Linked DNA regions of Homo sapiens. The protein of the gene in region 1 interacts with the protein of each later gene in a pairwise test. Each region holds a gene or a part of one and is shown in the gene's direction. Other genes may lie near its edges.

What was found. Proteins that work in one complex are often made in the same cells at the same time.
Region 2: the proteins of CENPF (region 1) and CENPE interact in a two-hybrid assay, tested with the Homo sapiens proteins (one study listed by IntAct).
Region 3: the proteins of CENPF (region 1) and NUP133 interact in a two-hybrid assay, tested with the Homo sapiens proteins (one study listed by IntAct).

What each region holds. Positions count from the first base shown.
Region 1 is NC_000001.11:214,662,192-214,665,106, forward strand, and holds the end of CENPF (centromere protein F), read left to right. Parts: intron 1-1,399; coding exon 1,400-1,603; 3' UTR 1,604-2,380; downstream 2,381-2,915. UniProt on the Homo sapiens protein: Required for kinetochore function and chromosome segregation in mitosis. Required for kinetochore localization of dynein, LIS1, NDE1 and NDEL1.
Region 2 is NC_000004.12:103,195,308-103,202,145, reverse strand, and holds the start of CENPE (centromere-associated protein E isoform 1 precursor), read left to right. Parts: upstream 1-3,802; 5' UTR 3,803-3,826; coding exon 3,827-3,882; intron 3,883-5,295; coding exon 5,296-5,387; intron 5,388-5,893; coding exon 5,894-5,983; intron 5,984-6,107; coding exon 6,108-6,226; intron 6,227-6,838. UniProt on the Homo sapiens protein: Microtubule plus-end-directed kinetochore motor which plays an important role in chromosome congression, microtubule-kinetochore conjugation and spindle assembly checkpoint activation.
Region 3 is NC_000001.11:229,463,306-229,470,343, reverse strand, and holds part of NUP133 (nuclear pore complex protein Nup133), read left to right. Parts: intron 1-3,587; coding exon 3,588-3,710; intron 3,711-4,824; coding exon 4,825-4,924; intron 4,925-5,468; coding exon 5,469-5,720; intron 5,721-6,667; coding exon 6,668-6,801; intron 6,802-7,038. UniProt on the Homo sapiens protein: Involved in poly(A)+ RNA transport. Involved in nephrogenesis.

The sequences.
Region 1 (2,915 bases):
GTTTCTTGTACATCTGGTGGGTTCCAGGGAAACCTTGTCTTTGGAATCACTATTTCTCTTTAAAAAAAAAAAAAAGTACCAGCAAAACTTTGTTTTATTTTTTTCCTTCAACTTTCCATGGATGGTAATTTTCCATTAAGTCCTGACCTTCCAAGGCTGCGTCTTTTCAGTGTCCTGGACACACTCTGAGGGAGAAGTGAGCTTTCCTGGGATTTGATCTGTTGGCCAGATTTACTATGTTTCATGTAATGAAAAGTATTTAACTGCCTTTTTCAAATCACATGCTTCCTATGGAAAGAATATAAATGGGAAAATAATTTCCATTCCCTTTTCTTCTTGCATCAGAAGGAGATCCCTGGAAGTCAGTTGCTCAGGGAGTGTCTGTCACGTAGTTACTTCCCAGCAACTGTGCTGGACACAGATCCTTGTGTCCATTATGCAAGAGGCCCTTCTCCTTTCTCTTTGAAAGATCTTCCTACTTGAATCTTCCACTCTTGCCTTTAACTTTGCTTAGGTGAAGCTTTCCTATACTTCATTTTTCTTGCACTTTTTTCTCTTTTTTGACCGTGTATCTTTTTTCACTACTATATAAATTTCAATTTTTTTTTTTTTAAATCTTGCTCTGTCCCCCAGGCTGGAGTGCAGTGGCACTATCACGGCTCACTGCAGCTTCAAACTCCTGGGCTCAAGCGATCCTCTTGCCTCAGCCTCCTGAGTAGCTGGAACTATAGATGTGAGCCACTAAGCCTGACCCAATTTCAAAAAATCTTCACTCACCAGTTACCTTACTCTCTCATCTACTTAAAGTCTCAAATTTTCTGAGATATCTCTTTCCTTTAAAAGGCAGGATGTTTGAGAGGGGATTTATTCTTTCCGGACTTTATTGTTAGATAGCTGCCCTTCTGCTCTAGTCCAAATTCAATATGGAAACAGTCAGCCATAAAGGGAGAATGATTAAAATACCCTGAACTGGTCCTTGGTCATTTTAAAATTTTCCACCCTGTGGAGGTAGTATTACTCATTTGGGTTACACTTGTTTTAAACAACAGGAATGGCTAGTTAGGACAACAGAGGCAGGTTTTTCACTTAGGAATTCACTGGATGTGTACCATGTGGTCAAGCATGTTGTGGGCTCTAGGGATACATAGGTAAATAGGGCATAGTCTTTGCCATCAGAGGTGCCAAGGGACGTCTGATGACTGGTTAGAGGTTGTACCTGGTATCCTCCTAAGTTCTCTGTTAGATGGGGCCTGTTCTCAAGGAAGAGGAAATACTTCAATTATATATAACTCCTAGAGAAGAAGAACTTAATTTAAAACTTAGTGACATAGTGCTTTATTTTTCATGTTGTGGAAATGTGAATGTGATTGAACCTCTAACAGAGATGTTTGTGTTGCAGGTCAAAGTTGCTCAGCGGAGCCCAGTAGATTCAGGCACCATCCTCCGAGAACCCACCACGAAATCCGTCCCAGTCAATAATCTTCCTGAGAGAAGTCCGACTGACAGCCCCAGAGAGGGCCTGAGGGTCAAGCGAGGCCGACTTGTCCCCAGCCCCAAAGCTGGACTGGAGTCCAACGGCAGTGAGAACTGTAAGGTCCAGTGAAGGCACTTTGTGTGTCAGTACCCCTGGGAGGTGCCAGTCATTGAATAGATAAGGCTGTGCCTACAGGACTTCTCTTTAGTCAGGGCATGCTTTATTAGTGAGGAGAAAACAATTCCTTAGAAGTCTTAAATATATTGTACTCTTTAGATCTCCCATGTGTAGGTATTGAAAAAGTTTGGAAGCACTGATCACCTGTTAGCATTGCCATTCCTCTACTGCAATGTAAATAGTATAAAGCTATGTATATAAAGCTTTTTGGTAATATGTTACAATTAAAATGACAAGCACTATATCACAATCTCTGTTTGTATGTGGGTTTTACACTAAAAAAATGCAAAACACATTTTATTCTTCTAATTAACAGCTCCTAGGAAAATGTAGACTTTTGCTTTATGATATTCTATCTGTAGTATGAGGCATGGAATAGTTTTGTATCGGGAATTTCTCAGAGCTGAGTAAAATGAAGGAAAAGCATGTTATGTGTTTTTAAGGAAAATGTGCACACATATACATGTAGGAGTGTTTATCTTTCTCTTACAATCTGTTTTAGACATCTTTGCTTATGAAACCTGTACATATGTGTGTGTGGGTATGTGTTTATTTCCAGTGAGGGCTGCAGGCTTCCTAGAGGTGTGCTATACCATGCGTCTGTCGTTGTGCTTTTTTCTGTTTTTAGACCAATTTTTTACAGTTCTTTGGTAAGCATTGTCGTATCTGGTGATGGATTAACATATAGCCTTTGTTTTCTAATAAAATAGTCGCCTTCGTTTTCTGTAAGAATGATTCCTAAGTGTAAAGGCATTCGAATATTGGTACTATTTCTTGCTAATTACAACAGCCTCTTATACACGTGAAAATGTTTGAACAAATGATACAGATCTTTAAACAAATGATCTTAGCATCTTTAGTTGTATTAAAAGACACAATTTGGAATACGGGTCATAAGGAGTATATGGGAATATAAGACGTCCAGCCCAGTGCCTCCTACATTCTGTGTCCCCATTAAACCACATCATCAAGGATACAAGTATGTGGTATTTCCCAGCTCACTTGATGATGATATAGTTTTGAAAGCATGCAGGCATTATAAGCCATGTCAGATCCAAAAACATTTGAACAAGTTCTTACATCCTTGAATCAGGGTAAAAAAGTTTCCCAGGGCATGCGCTAGTAAAAGATCATTTGTTCTTGGCTTTCAGTCCAAATTGATGCACAAATTCCGATAAGCACCATCATTTATATTTAAAAGTTGTCCTTCGCAAGGTGGCCTCTGTTGTTGGATAATGCTTCAATAATATTAAGCTACTTAATA
Region 2 (6,838 bases), on another chromosome or scaffold:
TTTAAGAAGAAGATTTAAGAAATAGAAGTAACATACAATGGAGTTGGTGTTTTATAGAGAGAGAGCTATGAGAGGGTGACATTTGAGTAAACACTGGAATCAATGGGAAGGAGGGAAACATGTATATCTGGAGTGAAAGCCTTCCATCCAGACACAGCAGCCAGTGCAAAGGTCTCAAGAGGGGGTTTGTCTGGGATTCAGGAAACTGCCCATGGCCCGTGTGGCTGGAGTGGGGAGAGCAAAGGGGAGGGACAGTGGTAGGAGGTAAGGCCAGAGCACAAACAAAGGGCAAGATCATGTGAGGCTTGGGAGACAACTGAAAGACGTTGGGTTTTGTTCTGAGAGAAATCAGAGGGTGGGGGTGAAGGTGTGGCACTGGGGGTCTTGAGAGAGGAGTGACATGATCTGACACATTTTCACAGAATCATTCAAATTGCTGTGTTGAGAACAGACTGGCAGTGGGGGTGGGCAAGGGTGGAAACACTGAGATTAGCTCAGTGCCAGATGATGATATTTCGGACCAGGTAGCTGAAGCGTAAGTTGTGACAAACTTTTCATAGTCTGAAATTTTCTCAAGGTGGCCCTGACAGAATTTTCAGGTGAGAAGCTGAGCAGCATGGCTCCAGAGTCTGCACCTGGATAACTGGAAGGATGGACTTGCCAACAACTGAGAAGCAGAAAACTGCTGATTGAGCAGATTTTGAGGGGAAGAGCATGAATTTGGTATTAGACATTTTAAGTTTGCCATATATATTAGACACTCAATATGGGAGGAATTAAGGCATATGTTTGCTGTTAAGACTGGTTTTCTAGAGCAGGAGAAAATGACAAGCAGGACAGAGAGTGAGAAGGAGAGGACTGTATCCAGTGCACACATGGAGAGTTTCCAGAGTGGAAAACACACAGATGTTTATAAAGTTACAGTCTGGAAGGCGAGTATGCAAGCACAAATGCACATAGTGAGTAGCCAGATTGACAGGAATTAGGGCAAAGTCTTTTCTGGAAGCTTCTATTTTCATAGTGAAATAAAGAGTGTCTTGTTTGAAGGAATTAATGAATCCCTTTTTACCCCCTTGCTTAAAACCCTCCATAGGCTTCCCCTCACCCTTGAGAATAAGATCCAAACATTTTATCACAGCCCACAAGGCCCCATGGGTCCTGGACCTGGACCTGCCTACCTCTCTCCATTGCCACAAATGCTTCAGTCACAGGGCCCTCCCCTTTGTGTCTCAGACAGATGACAAACTCGATCAAGCCTTGGCTTCTTTGACTTACTTGTTCCTCTGTCTGGTACGCCCTTTCTCTTGTCCTCCCAAGTCTGGCTCACTCTTCTCACATAGGTTTCACTTCAAAGGTCACCTCCTCAGGTCTTTCTTGAACATCTCATCTAAAATAAACCTTCCTCCCAACACATTATTTTACTATATATTTGTTATGTATTGTCTGCTGCTTCCCACAAGAATGTGTTTCATAAGAAACTAGCACTCTTAACCCACCTTATCACTCTCTCTCTGTCTCCTGATCCTATTAATCATTACATTATGTGTGTGTGTGTGTGTGTGTGTGTGTGTGTGTGTGTGTGTGTGTAGAGAGAGAGAGAGAGAGACTGAGATTTTTCTGTATTACCCATCTCCTCTAAGAGAATAGCAACTCTACAACAACAGGTACTGTGTCTATTCTATTTACTGTTGTGCTTCCTGACCTTAGAACCGTATCTGGCACATAACAGTTGTTCAATGAATATTTCTTGATGAACAATTTGGAAAGTCAGATGAAAAAATTGGATAGAGAGCATATAATAGAGAGCCTGGCATATAGTAAATCTTCAATAAATGTCACCTGCTGTGATGATAAAAAAAGACAGTCATAGCAACGATCATAAGCACAACTATGAAAGGCTGATGACTTCTCTTTACTCGTGAACCAATCTCCTCTTGTCTCATTAGAAATTTTGATTAATCACATCTCCCTTCTTCTTCATAGGTTCCTTGCCTTCAGCTGTCTCATATTTGCCCACAATTAAAACAAAAACAACAGTTAAAATATACCTTCCTTAACTCTGTATTTTCTTACTAGATACAACCAAGTATCTTTACAGTCTAGCAATAAAAAAGAGTTGTTTATACTACCTCACAGCTAGTTAACCAAAACAAATCTTGAATGAATAGACTCATTTTTCTTTACTGTTCTTATCTATAAACTAGTTTCTTTAAATTGAAAGAAACTACTTTCATCTAACTCAGTCTACCATCTAACTCAGTCCTCACTCTGCAAGGAAATTAGGCATATTCTGTGTATCTTTCCAAAAATTATGTATGTATATCCAGACATATTCTGTGTACATAACCGTGCACCTTGAATTTCTCTTAATAAATGAAACATCTTGGATAGCTTTCTAAAGTACACATAAAAAGCTAGGCCAGGCACGATGGCTCATGCTTGTAATCCCAGCACTTTGGGAGGCCAAGGCAAGGAGGATTGCTTGAGCCTAGGAGTTCAAGACCTGCCTAGGCAACACTGTGAGACCCCACTCCCTACCCTAATCCCCCCACCACCCCGTCTCTACAAAAAAATTTAAAAATTATCTGGGCTTGTGATGTGCCTGTAATCCAAGCTACTCAGGAGGTTAAGGTGGGAACCCCACTTGGGCTGAGGCCAGGAGTTGAGCCTGCAGTGAGCTGTGTTCAGCCTACTGCACTCTAGCCTAGGTGACAAAGCAAGAACTCATGTTTATTTAAAAAAAAAAAAAAAAAAAAAAGAGAGAGAGAGAAGAAAGGGAAAATAAGCATTATTTTTGGGAAAAAATCACTGTATTTAGAATAGCTTTCCCTCTTAGTTAATAAAAGTAACAAACCAGGCCAGGAGCGGTGGCTCACGCCTTTAATCCCAGCACTTTTGGAGACCGAGGCAAGTGGATCACCTGAGGTCAGGACTTTGAGACCAGCCTTGCCAACATGGCGAAGCCCCGTCTCTACTAAAAATACAAAAATTACCTGGGCGTGGTGGCGGGCACCTTGTAATCCCAGCTACTGGGGAGGCTGAGGCAGGAGAATCACTTGAATGCAGGAGGTGGAGGCTGCAATGAGCAGAGATAAGCACCACTGCACTCCAGCCTGGGGTGACAGAGCGAGACTCCGTTTCCAAAAAAAAGAAGAAAAAAAAAGTATCAACCCATTACTCAATGAGTTTTTCAGTCCTCGGTATTTATTTTCCCTAATTCAACCTCTGAGGAAGCCACAGCTAATGGAAACGAGTTACAGAGAGAGAGAAACAGGAGAAAAGCCTAAACTCAGATTTTCTAAGGCGCACAACAGGCTTGTCACGTTTCTGGACTGGACAGCGAATTTCAACTCTTGCTGTTGAAAGTTTATTTTAAACTGTTGGTGCAGTTTCTTTAAAAGACGGCAATTCTGTTTGGGTAGTGAAAAATACATGTATCTCTACCTAGTTTCGTCTACAGGTTCCAAACTTTTTAAGGATGGGGTGGAGGATGACGTTCGCTAGCTTTTGGCAGATAATAGTATTCTGGTATTCCAGGACCACCACTCTCTGCCCACTCCTGGGAGCCCCTCCCTTCGGCCCTCTCCTCCGACTCTCTGCTGGGCCCTTTAAATCCCCTCTCCTGTTTAGCAGTGGTCACGCCGCCCGCCTTGCGTCCCCCGCGCTGCTCCGCACGTGGAATGGCCCATGACGTCACGAGGCCACGGCTCAATCAGATGCGGCGTTTGGGAAATTTTAAATTTAAAGGCGGGGCGGCCTGTGAGCCCTGAAGTGCCGGCCGCGGAGGGTCCTGGCCATTTTCCTGGGACCAGTTCAGCCTGATAGGATGGCGGAGGAAGGAGCCGTGGCCGTCTGCGTGCGAGTGCGGCCGCTGAACAGCAGGTAGGGGGGCCACACCACGGCCCGGTGCCCGCTGGGCCTGCGGCGCCGCCCTGAGCCGGAGGGGCGAGGCCTACGATGTTTCCAGGAGCCGCTGCTTCCCGGCTCTGCTGTCTAGTGACTCGGCTGCTGGCCATCGTTTCAGGGTCTGTAAAGTGACAGGGGAGGATCGGAGATCTAGAAGATACTTTCCAGCTGCGAGATTCACTTAAATTTAACTCAGTCTCGCTGACATACAGACCTTCCCTTCTGTGCTGCTCTGCCTTGCGGCATCTGCTCCTCCCTGCCCCATTCCCCGCCTAGAGAAGTCGTATGGGACCGTGCCTTCCTGGCCCTCATCACAGTTAGTCATTTTACACCTAACTGCTGTCTCCAGACCCTCTGAAGACAAGGGCTAGTCTGTCTTGTCACATTACATTCAATCGTCACTCAAGATCATTCTACAAATATTTATCAATTTTTTTTTAGTGACTTTGTACAACACAGACACTCCCGTCATTGCCCAGTGGCTCTTCCATTCTAATGGGACGAGACAGAAAGTAAAGTTGAAAATGTAGGATGTTAAGTGGTGATATGTAGGTAATAAGTGCTAGGGAGAAAAAGCAGGAAGAGGAATAAATGAAATCGGTTTGCTTCACTAGCTTCTGGCCCTCGACCCGAAATGCTAACACTTTGTGTGTGTGAGAAATTTTTATTGAACACGGGGTTTAATAAATGCAAATACCAAGATCAGGAATTTCCTATTTTTGAGGAGCTCATTATCTAATGCCTTAAACGGCTACATAAAGAAACCATTAGGATACCTTTTGACAAGTGTTATGATGGGCAGGTAGAGAATGTTTGCTAGAGGAGTTATTAGCCCATCAGAGACGAAAGCTTCCCGTGGGGTGAACTGGTGTCAGAAAAGTCTTGACGCTTTTCATGAGTGAAATAATCCCTATGTTACTTAATGGAAAGGGAAGTCAGAGTATTCCAGGCACAGAGAGGTTACATCTGTCATTTGGGGAAGACCTTCAGGTAGAGCTTAGGATGTATCTAGGAATTCAGAGGAAAATGGAAGAGAGAAATGACATGATCTAGGACTCGTGCCCTGCTGAGGATTTCATAAGTTTCCAAAAGGTTTTAAGAATTTTAAGCAAGACAGACATAATCAGAGTTGCATTTTGAATCCATCCCTTTGTTTACCAGTACTGGGGGAGAGGGTGAGAATGAAAGCCTTCACAAGAAAACACTTTTGAGGCGGCAGAAGGTCACTGAAGCTCCATTTAAGAGTTGAATCCTCAAAGATGGACTTTCTGTCATTCTCTTATGTTACTATCTTTCAAAATATTCTTTAGCAGGTGAAATCTTTTCAATTATTCCTCCTATGACATGACTTTTATGACTGGTTAAAATGCGGTGTTTTTATTCTTTTAGAGAAGAATCACTTGGAGAAACTGCCCAAGTTTACTGGAAAACTGACAATAATGTCATTTATCAAGTTGATGGAAGTAAATCCTTCAATTTTGGTAAGCTTATAATAGCATCAAAAGTTACCTTGTTATCCTTTTGCTATTAAAAGTACAAAAGGCTTATCAATAATATTAGATTTGTCACTAAAGATTAGACTAAGCCTTCTATAAACTGCTTCACTGGAAACAAAATTGTTTATCCATCATGTATTTAAGTAAGGTAACCAATTGGCATTTAAAACAGTTATAATCACAGTTATCTAATTTGCATCTAGGTAGATTCCAGACCCCCATGTGCAAACACTATACCTTATTGCCTCTTGAAAGAACATAGAAAAGTTGACTTGTAGTGTATTTTTTGTGTGTGAAAATGAACTCATTTTACCTTAGGGAAGGGTATTTTCAGAGAACCAAAAAGTTGAAAAAAATACTGTGTCTTAAATAGTTGATCATCCTACATTCTGACAGTTTTACTTTTGGGAATAATTACTAATTTGGAATGAAAACACAGTGGACTCATTTGATTTAACTTCTGTGTTGTTGTTGTTGTTGTTGTTGTTTAGATCGTGTCTTTCATGGTAATGAAACTACCAAAAATGTGTATGAAGAAATAGCAGCACCAATCATCGATTCTGCCATACAAGGCTACAATGGTTTGTATTCACTCAATGCTGCAGAAACATTTTAGTCTTGGGCGTCTGTGCAACAAGCATGCATAGTTTTACCCATTATAGGTTTGTTTTTAATCTTTGCGTATGTGTGTTTTGTTTTTTGCAGGTACTATATTTGCCTATGGACAGACTGCTTCAGGAAAAACATATACCATGATGGGTTCAGAAGATCATTTGGGAGTTATACCCAGGGCAATTCATGACATTTTCCAAAAAATTAAGAAGGTAAGTAACTTAACTGGATTTCTAGTACGTACAGGTAAAACTAGTAAAAACTGGGTACCAGTCTTAGTGTATTTCTCTTGTAAAGATGAAAGGAAGTAGATTTACAGTTATTGTTTGATTATCCATGGGGAAAGAAGAAAGGCATAGCATAGATTCACTTTTATCTCCACAACTTACTTTATAAAGCTTAAAGTTCTTTTATTCTTTCTCTTGAATTCTGCAACAATAATACTCTCAACAAAAAGTAGGCATTAAGGAACAAGAAAATGTTATCAGAATGGTTAGCTCCACCTAACCATTTAACTATCAGTGATTATAAAGGAACAGTAGAAAGTGGATGTAGGTAAAAAAAGAAGGGAAGCAGAAAGCCAGAATAGGCAACCGAGTTAGTTGGTTTCAAATTAGCATTTTTATTAAAATAAGAACATCTTTTGAGAGGGTTTTATTTTGAGCCTAGAGTTTGAGCCTAGAGTTGGTGTTCTCCCAGCTTTATGGTACTTCACTTTTCATTATTTCTGTAACGATGCTTTTATATTTTTGTGTTCATTATTTTGTCAACAGTAGAACCAAGGGGTTTCTTAGTTTGTTTTACATACATTTTACCTCTTTAAG
Region 3 (7,038 bases), about 15 Mb from region 1:
AACTGTCTCCAAGTACCTATTTGCTTTGCATGCTGATCTTCTTTTTTTTTTTTTTTGAGATGGAGTCTCACTCTGTTGCCCGGGTTCCAGTGATTCTCCTACCTCAGCCTCCCGAGTAGCTGGGATTACAGGTGCTAGCCACCACCCCGGCTAATTTTCATATTTTTAGTAGAGATGGGGTTTGATGTCGAACTCCTGACCTCAGGTGATCCACTCGCCTCAGCCTCCCAAAGTGCTGGGATTACAGGCGTGAGCTACTGCATCCATCCTGATCTTCTCCTTTGTCTCTCTCGATCTACTCTTTTTTCTGGGGGCAGGGGGCACTAAGTCTTGCTCTGTTGCCAGGCTGGAGTGCAACAGTGCAATGTCGGCTCACTGCAACCTCTGCCTCCTGGCTTCAAGCAATTCTCCTGCCTCAGCCTCCCAAGTAGCTGGGACTACAGGCATGTGCCACCATGCCCAGCTAATTTTTGTATTTTTAGTAGAGACCTGGTTTCACCCTTGTTGGCCAGGCAGATCTACTCTTGACTCTGCCACAGCAAGGTGGCCTTCCTGAATGGGCTCCCTTGCCCTCCGGCTTCTGCCAGGTCAGATGAATGTGAGGCCCTGCCATAAGGCCAGAAGTTGGAGTAGTTATTCTGCCAGCTTTCTTCCTTGCCTGTGCGCACTTTACATTGGCTGTGCCCCTCTGTCAGGGACTGTGCCTCCTGTCCAACTGCTTTCTCTGTGTTTCCAGTAGCTGCCCCCTCCTTGTGCCTCTTCAGGCCTGAGGTTGATAATGCCTCATCCTAGGGTGCTGCCCCATCCCTTTTTGGACCCCTTAATCTTGCCCACACCTTTGCAAACAGTACCTTCACTGAACTCCTCAGCTACCTCCTAGGATCCTGTTGCTACACCTTGCTTGTAGAATCAGATTTATTTTCAGAGAAAAAGTAAAGTCTGCTACAAACTTCAAAGACAGAAATGGTTAAGATGCTGGGCAGCCAGTGGCAGCTGGACATTGTGGAAATAGTGACGCAGTCCTCGTGCTTTTGTGAAGCTTCACAGCCTGATGAGGCAGCAAGGCAGACTTCGCTGTCTCCCTTTAAAGGTGTGACATTAGAACTTAGACCTGTTGTCTTAACTGAGACTGCAGAACTATCTGGTTTTAGAAACAGGGCCAGCTCTTCCCTGAGCTCTGTGAAATTTGGAATTCCTTATGCATTTGAGGAACTTCAAACTCTATTTGGTGTCTCAAATTTTGCTTCCTTCCTCCTATAGCCTAGCTGTATTCTAACATGTAGCACACTGTGCCGACAAGTCTCTTTTTCTTAATGTTTGATGTACTGTAACCTAAGTTTGATGTACTATAACCTAAATTCAGTCTTCCTGTTGATTCCATAAATGTGTTTAGTGTGAATTCTTTGCTTTTATGCATTTGGGTTAGTTCCTGGGGAATGGAAGGAAAAGCACTTTGTTATGTTTTGTTTTTAATCTAGACAGTATGCCAGAAATCTGAAAGAAAAACAAATCACCTCAAGTTTCATGATCTAACAAATCAAGTTGTTGTCATTTTTGTGTCCTTTTTGGTCTTTATTCATATATAATTTTATATGATAAGACAATTTTTTAAAATTAATTACAGACTACTTGTAAGAACTGAGCAAGAGCCTGGTTCATTATTCTGCATTTGGATCAAAGGGCAAAGTATAAGTGTCAATTTAGTGTATGTACATGTTTCAGTTAGCTGAATTATTGGAGAAGGGTCTGGAAATTATCAGTTGGATACATATAGAATAATATTTTAGGAATATGATACAGCAAAACTAAAAATGTGATTGGCTCCTCAAAAGAATGTTCCATATGAAAAATGGTAATGTTTAGGACTGTTCCTGTCACTATTTATCTTCATTTCTCATGATGTTCGTTGGTCTTTAGCTTCTCTGGGGTGTAGTTATAAAGGTTTTCTCCCGTGTCATAATGATCATGAAAAGAGAATACAATAGCTATATGCATATAGTAGTTTTTCTTTCTTTTTACCTGTCCTTCCACTTGGGGGTGACAAGTTACCTGTCTAAGGAGTATTTGTGTTTTGGGACGAGCTGGTTAACCAAAATCAATCTCTGATTGGTGGGCCATATAGAACGATATTTTGACTTGGCAGCCCTGATAGAAAGTAAAACAATACAGAGCTGCCTGAGGGTGCGCTCTCCACTTTGACTCTGTCTCCAGTTTGGGAAGGCCTTGTACCTCCCAGGGCTCTGGAAAAGCAGAGCTCACTGCTTAAGGAACAGACTATGTTGACACGGCATATGAGCAATATTTGAAATCACTGAATATATACATGATAAGAGAATTTAACAAGTGTTTTGGCATTTTATGTGCTTTTATGTTATTTTCTGTCTTTTATATTATATATGCTTTCCTTTTTTTTTTTTTTTGAGACTGAGTCTTGCTCTGTCGCCAGGCTGGAGTGCAGTGACACAATCTCTGCTCACCGCAGCCTCGGCCTCCTTGGTTCAAGCAATTCTCCTGCCTCAGCCTCCCAAGTAGCCGGGACTCCAGGTGCACGCCACGACGCCCAGCTAATTTTTGTATTTTTAGTGGAGACAGGGTTTCACCATGTTTTCCAGGATGGTCTTGATCTCTTGACCTTGTGATCCACCCACCTCCAAAGTGCTGGGATTGCAGGCATGAGCCACCGCACCCGGCCATTATATAGGCTTTCATTGTGTTTTTCATGTTAACAATGTAAAATATTCTTACACTTAAGCTTATAAATTAAATGTGCTAAAGATTTCTTGCCTGGGCTGTTAGGATGCCTTTGGCTAACATCAGAAATGCAAAAGGAAGAACAAGGTTTGCAAAAGGGAGGGATTTTGTTTGGGTCATGTTTTATCTGTGCCTATATAACTTGTTCCTTCAGCCAGTTTGTGAGGTCCTTGAGGGCAGCTAATCTGATTTTTCTTTCCTCTTATCTCTGAGTGTCCATTGCTATGCAAACTCTAAATAATGGGGGGAAAGCTTAAGTGCAGACTTGAACTTGAAACAGGAGTTTCAGTGCCTGATGGTATTTTTGCACTGTTATCTCCATGTATTAATTAATGACAAAGGAAGAGTTAGAAGTTATGTATTTAGTTCATTCTCTTATGTTGCTTACTTCTGTTCTACAAATGTTTCTGTTATGTCTGAAGAAGGGGAATTCCTCAAAGAAAGAAATTAGCAAGTTCACTTTTTGAGGTCATTATTTTAGTCTATTAGTTCATTAGTTTGGGGTATTACATTGTAAAGTGATGTCATCTGTAACCTAGTGCTATTTAAAGATGCACTGAGCAGAGTAGCTATAATAAAAAATATCATCGCTTAAAAATCTCAGTAACAATCCAGAATTTGCCTGTTTATAAGACTTATTTGGGCACTCTGACTTTTAAAAGTTAGGAGATGTGACTTTTCTTGATTTTTGAATTTATTTTTACCATCAACTGCCAATAAATTTTCCTCCATCTATAGGTCTGAGGATATGGCTTAATGAGTAAAACTCACTGGGTAGTTGTTACCCATCACCATAATTTTTGTTGTAAGTAGTTTACTTCTGTGTATTCTCTCAGGTATCCCAAGTAGATACCATCTGTGAGTGCTTACTGGAGCATGAGGAGCAAGTCTTGAGGGATGCACCTATGGATTCCATTGAATGGGCTGAAGTGGTGATCAATGTGAACAATATTCTCAAGGTACAAAAATATAGTAAAGGCTTCAGCAAATCAAAGCCCAGGGCATGGATAGACAAGGAACTGGTTTCCATGTTCCTACTCTGTATTGCCGATAATGTATAAGGTTGTAGACATTTGTTAATCCCAAAAAAGTTAGAAAAATGTCATTTTATTATTAATCAGCTAATGAGTATTTTGAATGTTAGCCTGGTGCCTATTAATAAATTTCTATAATCTTGAGTTTCTATTTGGTAGAATAATAAACCTTTCATTTGGGAAGATGTGTTTGTATCTTTGCAATTTTTTAGTTGGTTTTTTTTCTGAGAGAAGGTCTCACTGTCACCCAAGCTGGAGTGCAGTGGCACCATCATAGCTCACTGTAACCTTGAACTCTGGGCTCACGACTTCCTCCTGCCTCAACCTCCAAGAGTGTTGGGATTACAGAACTGAGACACCATGCCTGATTGCAAACGTATTGTTAATGTAACTGTCTAAATATTTCTCATTTCTATTTTTTTAATTACTCAAAACCTTGCTACTTTTACTATTGACTAAAACGTTCCATTTAATTTTAGCTAGTGGACTTGTAGTAATGATTTTCCTACTTTGCCAAATAATTTTCCTACTATTATTTGCCAAAACTGAAGTTAAATTATGGAGTAAAACAAATTTCAAAAGCAGAAAGAACCAAAAAGTAATCATGCAGATCTGTGCTGACTTTTTTCTCTCATTTTCTTTTCTTTTCTTTTTTTTTTTTTTTTTGTGAGACATGGTCTCACTCCATTGCCCAGGCTGGGTTTATAGTGGCTTGATTATAGCTCACTGCAGCCTCCACCTCCTGGGCTCAAGCAGTCCTCCTGCCTCAGTCTCCCAAGTAGCTGGGACGGTAGGTGCACGCCACGATGCCCAGGTAATTTTAAAAATTTTTTGTACAGATGGGGTCTCACTATGTTGTCAGGCTAGGAGCAATCCTCCTACCTCAGCCTCCCAAAGCACTGGGATTACAGGTGTGAGCCAACATTCCTGGCCCCTGAGTATTTTTTCTTACTAATTTACTTTGCTGTCTTAAATTATCTTCAGAAATACTGTGATCCATCACCTTTTGCATGTGATAACACATTAACTTTTTTTCCAGGATATGCTGCAGGCTGCTAGTCATTATCGCCAAAATAGAAACTCTTTGTATAGAAGAGAAGAATCACTAGAAAAAGAACCTGAATATGTTCCATGGACGGGTAATATACTGATTTATTAACAGTTGTTCAAAATATATTTCTAATGACCCATCATTTTTAGAAGTTGTGTTATTCCCCTAGCGTAGGTTTGTAAGTGAAATGAAAAAGTGCCGTCTCCAAAATGAGCAGCTCTTGTCAAAATCACTTTATTCGTCCCTTGCTCTTATTTATCGATCTCTCTATAATTTATGTATTCAACTGGTACTTATGCATTTACTAGGTTTTAGTTCAAATAGTTATTCATAGAAGCAGTCCTGGCCCCGGAGGTATGGACTATATTTTATGTTGATTTAATACAAGAAAGTAAGTGGAGTAGCATTAAAGGAATTTAGAAGGAAGAAGAGTCATGTTTACCTGGCTTTGCTGAGGAAATCTCCTTGGAGAAGATGGGATTCAAGCAGGGCATTGACAGGTATCACCTGAATCCCTGTTCAATGTAATTTTCCAGCAGTGATGAAGAGGCATAATTTTTATGCTATTAGTCTTTCCTTTAGCCATCACTAGATCCCTTACTTTAACCATATTATTTTGTGTAATTTCACAGCAACAAGTGGTCCTGGTGGCATCCGAACGGTAATAATACGCCAGCATGAGATTGTCCTGAAGGTGGCTTATCCACAGGCAGACAGCAACCTCCGAAACATCGTGACCGAGCAGCTGGTAGCCCTGATCGATTGCTTCCTGGATGGTTATGTTTCTCAGCTTAAGTCTGTGGATAAATCCAGTAATCGGGAAAGATATGACAATCTGGAGATGGAATACCTACAGAAAAGATCAGATCTCTTATCTCCTCTTCGTAAGTTCATGATACTTGGCAAGAGTTTTAAATTTGCTGAATGGATGAAAGGGTTGAATAGTTAATTCAGTATATTCAGTGTGGTAGTGTTAATCCAACTGTAATAAAGAACTTAAAGCAAATATGCACAGCTTTCTGTGCTCATTTATTCAACTTTTTTTCCAGTACTATCTAGGTATAAGTACCATAGATGATACTGAAGACAATTAATAAATACATAAACAAACAACATGTGGAGACTACCCTTAAAGAGCTTAGCATCACAGACCTTTACGTGAATAACTGGATTGCAAAGTAGAGCCTGGTGAGGGCTGCTTGAGGGGTACAGATAAGATATTATGGCTGTTTGGCAAAGGACACATTATACTCCAGGCTAGGACTGGGAAGAGTTTGCTTTACTCTTACATGAAGGAAGAGAATAGCGTTTTGGGGAGGCAGTGATGAAACAAGGGTCTGAATTTGCATCTTTTTTTTTTGTTGAGACAGAGCGTCACTCTCTCGCCCAGGCTGTAGTGCAGTGGTATAATCTCAGCTCACTGCAACCTCCATCTCCCGGGTTCAAACAATTCTCCTGCCTCAGCCTCCCAGGTAGCTGGGATTACAGGCGTGTGCCACCACAACTGGCTAATTTTGTATTTTTGGTAGGGATGGGGTTTCACCATATTGGCCTGGCGGGACTCGAACTCCTGACCTCAGGTGATCCACCCGCCTCAGCCTCCCAAAGTGCTGGGATTACAGGTGTGAGCCACCGCACCTGGCCTGAATTTGCATCTTTAAGAAATTGATGTGAATTGTGAAACTAAGTGCCAGTAAGTGGGAAGGTTTCCATTCCATTAATGATTGTTGGTTTATAATAGGAATAAAGATAAAATTTCAAGTAACATTTTTTATTACAGATTTTAAGTTTTGCTAACAGGATTTTTTCCCATCTTTTCTCATTCCCACAGTTTCACTAGGCCAGTACCTGTGGGCTGCTTCTCTAGCAGAGAAATACTGTGACTTTGATATATTGGTACAAATGTGTGAGCAGACTGACAACCAGAGCCGACTCCAGCGCTACATGACCCAGTTTGCTGATCAGGTGATGAGTGTTGGGTGTGTGGCCACTGAGTCCTTTAGTTGCCTTTTCTTGAAATGGCTTTGCCATTTCAAATCTGTAATCAGGGCTTTTGGAATATGATACGATCTTTTTGTAGTTAACTTTGATGAGAAGATACTAATTTGTATGTCGCGTTTCTTTGTAAATTTTGTCCAGTAGCGAGATCACAGTTCACGACAGCCTCAACCTCCTGGGTCCAATCACTTCTCCCACCTCACC